Homo sapiens: one gene and its partners. The protein of the gene in region 1 interacts with the protein of each later gene in a pairwise test. Each region holds a gene or a part of one and is shown on either strand. Other genes may lie near its edges. The genes, in order: AIRIM, RUSC1 and C1orf94.

What was found.
Region 2: the proteins of AIRIM (region 1) and RUSC1 interact in binary tests that used the Homo sapiens proteins (3 or more experiments, as listed by UniProt).
Region 3: the proteins of AIRIM (region 1) and C1orf94 interact in binary tests that used the Homo sapiens proteins (3 or more experiments, as listed by UniProt).

The regions. Positions count from the first base shown.
Region 1 is NC_000001.11:37,683,929-37,687,749, reverse strand, and holds part of AIRIM (AFG2-interacting ribosome maturation factor), read left to right. Parts: intron 1-1,297; coding exon 1,298-1,477; intron 1,478-3,821. UniProt on the Homo sapiens protein: Part of the 55LCC heterohexameric ATPase complex which is chromatin-associated and promotes replisome proteostasis to maintain replication fork progression and genome stability.
Region 2 is NC_000001.11:155,319,309-155,322,908, forward strand, and holds the start of RUSC1 (AP-4 complex accessory subunit RUSC1), read left to right. Parts: upstream 1-1,585; 5' UTR 1,586-1,683; exon of another isoform or gene 1,684-2,379; 5' UTR 2,380-2,465; coding exon 2,466-3,600. Other genes in the region: FDPS (farnesyl pyrophosphate synthase), read left to right, coding at 303-380, 486-620, 1,101-1,301. UniProt on the Homo sapiens protein: Associates with the adapter-like complex 4 (AP-4) and may therefore play a role in vesicular trafficking of proteins at the trans-Golgi network. Signaling adapter which plays a role in neuronal differentiation.
Region 3 is NC_000001.11:34,193,855-34,197,675, forward strand, and holds part of C1orf94 (uncharacterized protein C1orf94), read left to right. Parts: intron 1-3,370; coding exon 3,371-3,821.

The DNA of each region.
Region 1 (3,821 bases):
TTTATTTTTATTTTATTTTTAGAGACAGTCTCACCCTGTTGCCCAGGCTGAAGTGCAGCGGTATGATCATAGCTTACTGTAGCCTCTAACTCCTCCTGCCAGCCTCCTGAGTAGCTGGGATTCCAAGAGCATGCCACCATACCTAGCTAATTTTTAAAATTTTTTGTGGAGATAGTCTTGCCATATTGCCCAGGCTGGTCTCAAATTCCTGGCTTCAAGCTGTCCTCTGGCCTTGCCCTCCCAAACTACTGGGATTACAGGCATGCCACTGCACCTGTTTTTTTTTTTAAATGTTTTAATTAAAAAAAAATATATATTAGCTGGGCACGGTGGCTCATGCCTGTAATCCTAACACTTTGGGAGGCCGAGGTAGGTGGATCACCTGAGGTCGGGAGTTCGAGACCAGCCTGACCAACATGGAGAAACCCCGTCTCTACTGAAAAAAAAATACAAAATTAGCCGGGTGTGGTGGCGCATGCCTGTAATCCCAGCTACTCAGGAGGCTGAGGCAGGAGAATCACTTGAACCCGGGAGCCAGAGGTTGTGGTGAGCCAAGATCGCACCATTGCACTCCAGCCTGGGCGACAAGAACGAAACTCCATCTCAATAAAAAAACAAAAAACAAAAACAAAAACTATACACACACACACACACACACACACACACACACACACACACACACACACACACTTTTGAGACGGAGTCTCGCTCTGTCACCCAGGTTGAAGTGCAGTGACGCGAACTTGGCTCACTGCAACCTCTGCCTCTGGGTTCAAGTGATTCTCGTGCCTCCCGAGTAGCTGGGTCTACAGGTGTGCACCACCACACCTGGCTAATTTTTGTATATTTAGTAGAGACGGGGTTTTGGGACATTGGCTGGTCTCAAACTCCTGACCTCAGGTGATCCACCCCGCTCAGCCTCCCAAAGCTGGGATTACAGGCAACAGCCTCTGCACCCAGCCCCTTTCTTGATTCTTGAGCCACCCGTACCTCCAAGACACTGTCACTAATCTCCTTAGACCAGTGGTCTCAATTGGAGATGGTTTTTCTATGAGGGGACATTTGGCATCATCTAGAGGCATTATTGGTTGTTATGGCTTATGGAGGGTATAGGTATAGTTTACACCTGTCATTTAGTGGGTAGGGGCCAGGCATGCTCCTACACGTCCTACAATGTACAGGGCAGCCCTTCACAACAGAGAATCATGTAGTCCAAAATATCAGTAGTGCCAAAATTGAGAAACCTTCCTTTATACATGTCTCATGATATTGCCTAATGTCAGACTCTTTCTTGCAGAGCCATCCTCCTCAAGGTGCGAGACATGGTCAGCAGCCATGTGGAGCGAGTGTTTCAGATCTATGAGCAACACGCAGACACAGTTGGCATTGATGCTGTCCTGCAGCCTTCAGCAGTGAGCCCCTCTGTGGCTGACATGTTGGAATGGTTGCAGGATATTGAGAGACATTATCGAAAGTCGTATCCTTTGCACACATTTCAGGTCACAGCCAGAGCTGTTCTAAGTCTTTCAAATTTCAGTTTTCACAAGATTGGAAAACTAAGTAGTTTGAGTCAGTTCTCTTTGGTTCCTGAACTTGGATTCTTCCTGCATTCCTTTGTATAATCCTTCCTCTAATAATTTATCGAGTAGCTACTACCTGTCAGGCACTGTTCTTGGTGCAAAGAGACAGGCATTGAAAAAGGCAAGTAGAATGCTGAATGGCGATAAGTGTTATGGAGAAAAATAAAGCAGGGAAAGTGAGGAGTGAGGGTGGAGTTGTGATTTAAAATAGGGTGGTCAGAGCAGGCTTCATGAGAAAGTGATATTTGAGCAGAGATCTGAAGAGGGTAAGGGAAAGAGCTATGTGGCTATTTGGGGAGAGAAAGTTACTAGGCAGAGGAAACATCAAATGCAAAGGCCTTGTGGTAAGAACATTCCTGGTCTATTCAGGAAATAGTAAGGAGGCTAGACTGGAGCATGAGGAGGAGCCTAACAGCAGGTGAGGGTAGAAAGACAGGGGGCTCGACTTTCTAGGGCCTTGAAGGTCTTTGAAAGAATTTGGGGTCTGGGCGTGGTGGCTCACACCTGTAATCCCAGCCCTTTGGGAAGCTGAGGTGGGAGGACTGCTTGAGCCCGAGAGTTTGAGACCAGCCTGGGCAACATGGTGAAACGCCGTCTCTACAAAAAATACAAAAATTAGCCAGGCATGGTGGTATGTGCCTGAAGTCTGTAATCCCAGCTACTCGGGAGGGTGAAGCTGGAGGATTGCTTGAACTGGGGGAGGTCAAGGCTGCAGTGAGCTGAGATCGTGCCACTGCACTCCAGCCTGGGTGATAAAGTGAAACTCTGTCTCCAAAAAAAAAAAAAAGAATTTTGGGCCAGGCATGATGGTGTGCAGCTATAGTCCCAGCTACTCAGGAGGCTGAGGTGGGAGGGTTGCTTGAGCGTGGGAGGTCAAGGCTGCAGTGAGCCTTGATTGCCAGCCTGGGTGTGATCACCAGCCTAGGTGACAGAGCAAGACCCTGTCTCAAACCACCCCCCGCCCACCCCCCCCCCCCAAAAAAAAGCATTCGAGTGACAGAAAAACCTCTTAGAAACTTGATTAAGGAGTAACAGGATAAGACCTATGTTTTTAACAGTATCATTCTGGCTTCGTTCTAGGGTAAGATTTGGGGTAGTGGGGGCAAGGGTAAAAGCAGAAAGACCAGTTAGTTGAAGCTCTAACATTTTTCTCTCAAAAAAATTTTTTTTTTGCCTAGGAGATGGGGTCTTGCTGTGTTGACCAGGCTGGTCTTGAACTCCTGGCCTTGATGATCCTACCTCCTTGGCTTCCCAAAGTGCTAAGAGTACCGGTGTGAGCCACCATGCCTGGTCTTCTCTCAATTCTTGTCTGACACCTGATTTTAGCCTCTAGCTTAGGTTTCTGCCTTCATGTGAATAATTCCCAAACCCCAACTTTTCTTGTCTCTGGTCTTGACTTTTGGTTTCCTGCAGATGCCTCCAACTGGATTGTTCTTAGAACTGCAAACTCAAGTTTAAAATTGAACTCCTCAATCTAGCCCTCAAATTCAGCCCCCTTTTCCTTGAGTCGTAGAACCCACCCTGTTTTCTCTTTTATTTATTTATTTTTTGAGACAGAGTTTTGCTCTTGTTGCCCAGACTGGGGTGCAATGGCACGATCTTGGCTCACTGCAACCTCCACCTCCCGAGTTCAAGCAATTCTCCTGCCTCAGCCTCCCAAGTAGCTGAGATTACAGACACCTGCCACCACGCCTGGCTAATTTTTGTACTTTTAGTAGAGAGGCGGTTTCACCATGTTGGCTAGGCTGATCTGAAACTCCTGACCTCAGGCCTCCCAAAGTGCTGAGATTACAGGCTCGAGCCACCGCGCCCGGCTTATTTTCCCTTTTAAATGCATTGGTAGCAGTAGTAGTAACAGCAACAGGAGCATGGGCAGAAGGAGCAAGAGCTGCGGCTGACATTACTAAGCACTTGCTATGTGCTAGAATGTTTACACAGTCACTTGTCAAGTCCTTTCCTTCTGTTTCCCTGGTGCTTCTTTGATTTTCCCTCTCTGTCCCCATCCCCTCTGTTGCTTACATGGCTTCTTAGCTCTCACTTGGACTCTTAATTGCCTCTTGACAGTTTTCTCTGTCTAGTTTCTTTCCTTCTAAGCTGACTCCAATGAATGACCTCTATATCTGCAGGAAGTCTGGTTCTGATCCTGATAGTTAGGATCAGAATTGTTCTGTACTGTATAGGAATAGCTCCTGTTGCTAATGGGATAAAGTTCAGAGCCCTGCGTTGGTACTTGGTGTTCTT
Region 2 (3,600 bases), about 120 Mb from region 1:
TGGCAAAAATATTAGGAAGGTGGATCAGAATGACTTGGGGACTGACATTTGTGAGGGAAGAGACAGGCTGTGCACCTCTAGAATGGATTCATCTCTTTTATGACTCCCAGGAAGGCCTAGCCAAAAATAAGTGGGATTGAGGTTGGACCATCAGTCAGGACTGTCTAGGTCAGGGAAGCCAAGATGTCTGAAGAGAGAGGAAAGATTTGGGGCTGCAGTAGGGCAAGACCCCATGGGAGGAAGCAGCCAGGAAGATGCCGGCACCCCTGGGGTTTGGCTTATTAACCCCCCTTTCCCTGCAGGCAGGAATTGATGGCGAGAAGGAGCACGCCAATGCCAAGAAGATCCTGCTGGAGATGGGGGAGTTCTTTCAGATTCAGGTAAGAAGGCAGGAGGCAGTAGCAGAGAACAGGCACCAGCTTCACTCCTCCTCTGCCCAGGAACCTCATCCTTCCTCTTTTGCTGCCCTCCCCCTCCCTGCCCAGGATGATTACCTTGACCTCTTTGGGGACCCCAGTGTGACCGGCAAAATTGGCACTGACATCCAGGACAACAAATGCAGCTGGCTGGTGGTTCAGTGTCTGCAACGGGCCACTCCAGAACAGTACCAGATCCTGAAGGTGCCTGAGAGAGGGTGGTGGGTCCCTGAGTTGGTGGAAAGGGATAGAGCAGTGGTTCTCAACTAGAGGCAGTTTTCCTCCCGAGGGGACATTTGGCAATGTCAGCAGACATTTTTTGCCATTGTCATTACAACTCTGTGTGTGTGCATGTGGTACAGACATCTAGTTGGCAGGAGCCAAAGATGTTGCCAAACATGTAGTACACAGAACAGCTCCCCCAGACAGGATTATCTGGTCCCAAATTTCAATAGTGCCAAGGTGGAGAAACCCTGGAGTAGAGGATGCCTGGTATGAGGCAATATTTGGGATAGGGAAGGGAAGCTTGGGATTTTAGCTACGTAGAGACACTTGAAAATTGGAGGGAGGAAAGGAGTGGGTGGCTTTGGAGATGTTCTGGAATATGTGAATGAGGGGAGTGGAGGGGTCCTGGAGGCTCTGGGGAAGGCCAAGCCCGTTTTCCTGTCTTTCAACCTCTTCCAGGAAAATTACGGGCAGAAGGAGGCTGAGAAAGTGGCCCGGGTGAAGGCGCTATATGAGGAGCTGGATCTGCCAGCAGTGTTCTTGCAATATGAGGAAGACAGTTACAGCCACATTATGGCTCTCATTGAACAGTACGCAGCACCCCTGCCCCCAGCCGTCTTTCTGGGGCTTGCGCGCAAAATCTACAAGCGGAGAAAGTGACCTAGAGATTGCAAGGGCGGGGAGAGGAGGCTCTCAATAAATAATCGTGTAACCTTCTTGTGGTTCTGTTCTTGCTCGGCCCAGCCAGAGTCTGGCTCTTTCCAGAATGTGCAGGGTGGGGTGCTGGGAGGACTCGCTGCACGGAACCAGGACCCAGGGGCCAAAAGCTTAGGATATATCAAACCCTCTAGGTGGGTGACAAAAGACGCTAAACGCTGGGGGCGGGTCTGAGCTACGCCACGCCCATGCGCGAAGGGGTGCAGCTGCGCAGCGCAGGGTAGGTTGTGCTAGTGCCCCTCCCCTCCCGCTCTGTGCCCCGCCGGGCGGGGACCGTGGGAGCCGCGGACAAGCCCAAGGCCGGAGCGGTTCCAGGAGGACCCTGGTGAGGAGGGCTCGGCCCATGGGTGTAGACCGATGGACCTGGGCACGAGGGGCGGGGCAGGACAAGGGAGCAGGAGAAATGAATAGAGAAAGGGTGCGGTGGTGGCTGAACGATGGAGACGAATGCGGAGAGAATGGACATACCGCTGTTCCGAGGGGCGAGGGCGCAGGCTGGAGCCCGGCCGAGGCAGCCAGCAGATGCGGAGTTGACAAGCTGACGGCTGCTCCATCCTTTTCCTCTCCAGCCCCCACCCCTTTCCTGCATTCACCAGACAAACTCTGCGTATTGCCCCACCCCCATCCTCCACCTCCTTTCAGGGCATCTGGGTGGGTCTCCCTGGGTCCCTTCCTCTGGGAGTAAGGGGTAGGCTGGAGGGCAGGGCCAGATTGCGGCAGCAGGGACCTGGAGGTCCATTCTGGGCCCGGACCTCTTCCAGGCCCCCGCCCCCCTTCGGAGATCCAGAGCGCAGCCGCGTTCTCTGACCCTCCCGGCTCCATTCCCGGGGGGTTACATTCGACTCCATCTGCAAACACTGCAGTGGAAACTAATGGTCAGTCGATTGCGATTTGCATCTCATTGAAATATCTTCCAAAGCAGCCAGAGCCTTCAGGCCTGCTGCTGCCGTCAAGTCACCTCGGTGTCCTTCCCCGCAGCTCTTGTCCTCACTGGCCGGGCTTCACCACCTCTGTCTTCTAGGTCTGCACCTGTGGTTGCCAGGTAGGTGGATGTGAGAGACCCTACCCTTCTGGTTCTCTAGAAGCCATCCCATCGCCGCTAGCATCATGCTGTCCCCTCAGAGAGCTTTACTCTGCAACCTCAACCACATCCACCTCCAGCACGTCTCCCTGGGCCTGCACTTGTCCCGCCGTCCTGAGCTACAGGAGGGGCCTTTGAGCACACCCCCTCCTCCAGGAGACACTGGGGGCAAGGAGAGCAGGGGCCCCTGCAGTGGCACCCTGGTGGACGCCAATTCCAACAGCCCAGCTGTGCCCTGCCGGTGCTGCCAGGAGCACGGTCCGGGCCTAGAAAACCGGCAGGACCCGTCACAGGAGGAAGAGGGGGCTGCCTCTCCCTCAGACCCAGGCTGCTCCTCCTCACTCAGCTCCTGCTCAGATCTTAGCCCCGATGAGTCCCCTGTCTCAGTCTACTTGCGGGACCTCCCTGGTGATGAGGATGCCCACCCTCAGCCCAGTATCATCCCCCTGGAGCAGGGCTCCCCACTGGCTTCAGCAGGCCCTGGCACCTGCTCACCGGACAGCTTCTGCTGCTCTCCTGATTCCTGCTCCGGAGCTTCTTCTTCACCCGATCCTGGCCTGGACTCGAACTGCAACGCCCTGACCACCTGCCAGGACGTCCCTTCCCCAGGCTTGGAGGAAGAGGACGAGAGGGCGGAGCAGGATCTCCCTACCTCTGAGCTCTTAGAGGCGGATGATGGGAAAATCGACGCTGGGAAAACGGAGCCCAGTTGGAAGATTAACCCAATTTGGAAAATTGACACAGAGAAAACTAAAGCTGAATGGAAAACCACTGAAAACAATAACACTGGTTGGAAAAACAACGGGAATGTTAACTCTAGCTGGAAAAGTGAACCTGAAAAATTCGACTCTGGTTGGAAAACCAACACAAGAATAACTGATTCTGGCTCGAAAACAGATGCAGGGAAAATTGATGGAGGATGGAGAAGTGACGTCAGCGAGGAGCCGGTGCCCCACCGGACAATCACGTCCTTCCACGAGCTGGCCCAGAAGCGCAAGCGGGGCCCAGGGCTGCCCCTTGTCCCGCAGGCGAAGAAAGATCGCAGTGACTGGCTCATAGTCTTCTCGCCCGACACCGAGCTCCCCCCCTCGGGGTCGCCGGGCGGCTCCTCGGCACCTCCTCGGGAAGTCACCACCTTCAAGGAACTCCGGTCCCGAAGCC
Region 3 (3,821 bases), 3.5 Mb from region 1:
TAGCAGGGCTCACAGCTGGGGCGGGCCCATATGTTCTTGACACACCAATGCCAGCTTTCTAAGAGCCTCATTGATTCCTGTGGTATGTAGAGGAGAATGGCCTGGAGGGGTTGGTTCTGGAGGCCATATCCCCTGAAACCCACCGTGAGTTCAGAATGGAGACAAGGAGGTGGTTGCAGCTGGGGGGGACATGAGTGTTTCCTTAAACACCACAAAGGCTGCAGTGTGGGAATGAATGGGGAAGATGCTTTCTTCATTGTTCTGGATGCCTGTGAGGAAAAGTTGTGCAGAGGCACATATGGGTGCATCGTAACTAAGATCTAAACATTGATAATTACATTATAATAATTATGCTGTGAGCATTTCTCGAGGGCCCACTATGCACCCAGCTTGTGCTAAGTGTTTTGTACAACTTATAGAATGCTCACAGTCTGACCTTGACAGATGAGGAATACAAGGTGTAGAAGGCAGCTCTTGAGAGGCAGAGCAGGGATTCACACTCAGCCCCTGGTAGTTCCTGTCTGCTAGCCTGGCTTCAGGTTGGGGAGGGCAGGAGTGACCTCCCAGGTGCTGAGAAGGGACCATCATGGGGTGATTTTTGGTACAGGGATCTCAGGGCCCTGTGGGGCTTCTAGAAGCTACTTTGAGTATGTGCGTGTAATATTTGTATAAAATAAAGCAGAAAGCAAATACAGACAAATAGAATGACTAGTGTGTGATGACCCTATGTAACCATTACCTGGCTTTAGCAATGATTAACATATGGCCAATCTTGTTTCATCTATTACTCCCTCTCTCTTCTTTTCCCTCCTCCTGCTGGATTAATTTTAAAGGCATTCCCCGGCATAATTTTCTCTGTAAATAGTATGTATCGCTAAGAGATAAGGACTCTTTGTTGTTGTTAGGCATAACCACAATACCATTATCACAATTTTTAAAAATTGACCTAATTGTACTGTGTCTTTCTAATTCAGTGAAGCTATTGGTGTATGGCTTGCTTTGCAAAGTATTTGGGGAGGGGAGGCAAAAACTAGTCTGACTCCTGTGACTTGAGACTCACCTGTTCCTTTTGAGGTGGATGAAGAGGAAGAAGAGGAGGGGGATCTAAAACTTGAGACCGCAGATTGGCAGCCCCTTTATTCTGATTGTTCTCAGGGGACTCAGCCGGGAAAGTGAGGCCTATTTATAGGCCTAAGTCTAGACATGGGAAGGAGGCAAAGGAAGGGAATAGGTGACAAGTCAGGGAAAGGGGACAGAAGAGAGAGTGGAGGGAAAGAGAAAATAACAGCAAGTGATCTTGCTGCACACATAGCTCCAGTGGCCCTTCAGGAGCTGGCCGGGACCAGCCCACACTAGCTAATGCTCACAGCTGACACTGACTGAATGTTTCCTGTGCACAGGGCACTGTGCTGAGCTCACGTACCAGTGACCTCGCCCAATGCTCCCAACCATCCCATGAGGCAGGTGATGTTAGGTGTCACACCCATTTTACAGGGGAGGACACTGAGGTTCCAGGGTCCGACATGAAAAGAGCAGTGGTGCCTGGATTCAAACCCAGGTCTGTTTGTCTGGAGTCTGCTTTTTGCAGGCTTTACTCTCTGCCTCCAAGCCTGGTGATGTTCCATGTGGGGGTAGAGAGGCTCATGTTCAAGAAGTACGGCTGTCTTGGCTGCTGGACTATTGGTACATTCCCATGTCTTTAGTACATAGCTCTTCCCCAGGGTCCCCAAGCACCCTGGGCTACCAAGTCTTTGCCTCAGGACTCATCAGGACCCAGCAACTAAAGGTTTCCTGTCTGGCACAATAGGAAGCCTCTAAGACTGTAGACTGTGTCCATTCTGATTGACTGTTAAATGCAGTGACTACTCCCCTGGGTCTGTGTATGGTGACATGTGAATTGTGTGCCTGCCTGTTTCTGTTCGTGGGTGTGTGTGTGTGTGTGTGTGTGTGTGTGTGCGTTTGTACACAATAAGCATTACCAGGAAGGCATGGACCCTGCTGGAAGCATTCCATGGTCACCGTTTTGGAGACTCATCATGCCCTCTGAGAGGCTGGCCAGAGCTGGAACCTGTGCTGGACCTCCAGACTGCAAAGCCTAAGCCACAGCAGCTGAGCTCCCCTATGGGACTCCTTGATTTTTTCCCTTGGGTCTTCATCATCTTCTCCTTCAGCGCTCCCATGATAGAAGGCTGAGTAGTTTCCAGAATGCTTGGTGTGGGCCACCTCATCCACTTCTCATAGGAGCCCCTTGAGTAGGCACAGCAGATGGTTCTAGGCTGGTGGCTCTTGTCCTCCTGGGTGCCTGCTTGCCAAGAGTGCTGGTGAGGTGGGCGGGGCCACCAGCCAGGCCAGTAGGATTGCAATCCTCTCTACACCTGGAGAGAAGTGGCAACGAGGAGCCTAAAAGCCAGGAGACCATCAGGTGCTATCAGACAGGTGCAGACCAGCAAGTGTGCAGCGGAGGACCCAGGGTCCAAGGGGCAGGTTGAGGCCATTATTTAGGTTCAGGAAGATCCTGGTGAATCAGTGCAGGGATCAGTGCAGGGATCTCCCCACTGCTGGTGCTGTACATGAAGGGAGGCCCAGTCCAGAGGCTGTGATCGGGTCAGAGGCCATGCCAGAGTGAACATGAGTATCCAAGAGGCTACCGTATGAGATCCAGGGGCGGGGACCAACTAAGGCTGACAGTGGTGTAAACATGAGAGCTGACCTTTGAATCGCCCTTACTCTATGCCAGACACCATTCAAAGTGCTTTGCACCTCTATGATACTCCTAGTAATGAGAGGAGGAGACAGAATACCAAGATGCTGAACAACCTGCCCAGGGTCACACCGATGGGAGTTGACTGGATCAGGGTGTAAGCTTAGGCTGTCCACTCCACCATTCTGCAGTGAGGTGATGGGGGCTGCGCTACTCTCCTGGGGGCTTCCCAGGGCTCAGCCCCAGCACCCTAGACTCTGCACTTAGAGCTGTTGGCTTGCTCCTGACCCCTTTGCTGCTGGGCAAAATTCCCCAGTGAACCCCTTCTCTGGTCTTTCATTGCTTCAGGTTCTGAGCATGAAGAACAAGGAGGAATGGACTAGAATTAAGGCTCAGTGAGGCTGTGACTTGCCCCAGCTCACTCAGCAAGGTTGTTGGGAGAGGATCCAGGTTTCCCCATTTTTCAAAACCATGCTCTCAGTGCTGCATCCTACCGCTGTGGTATAGGACCCTCTGGGGGTCCAGTGTGTCTGCTGGGTTATCTTGCCTGGAAGTGTGTTTTTGTCATGTTATGCATCCATCTCCCTTTTCTGGGGCCTATGTCCTTCTGCAAAGCCACGCCTTGGTGAGCTGGCACTAACACCGTCTGTCTCTCTGACCCATTTCCAGAGCTCTGGAGCTCAGCAGTGGCAAAGATGAGATCTCCTTGTTGGTGGAACAGGAGTTCCTAAGCCTCACCAAAGAGCACTCGATCCTGGTCGAAGAGAGTTCTGGGGAGCTGGAGGTACCCGGCAGCTCTCCCGAGGGGACCAGAGAGCTGGCTCCCTGCATTCTTGCCCCTCCTCTAGTGGCAGGCAGTAATGAGCGCCCCAGAGCCTCCATCATTGTCGGAGACAAGCTTCTGAAGCAGAAGGTGGCCATGCCCGTTATCAGCAGCAGGCAGGACTGTGATTCTGCCACTTCTACTGTCACAGACATTCTGTGTGCCGCCGAGGTCAAGAGCAGCAAGGGGACAGAGGACAGGGGCCGCATCCTAGGTGACTCCAACTTGCAAGTCAGCAAGCTTCTGTCCCAGTTCCCACTGAAGTCCACTGAGACATCCAAGGTCCCTGACAACAAG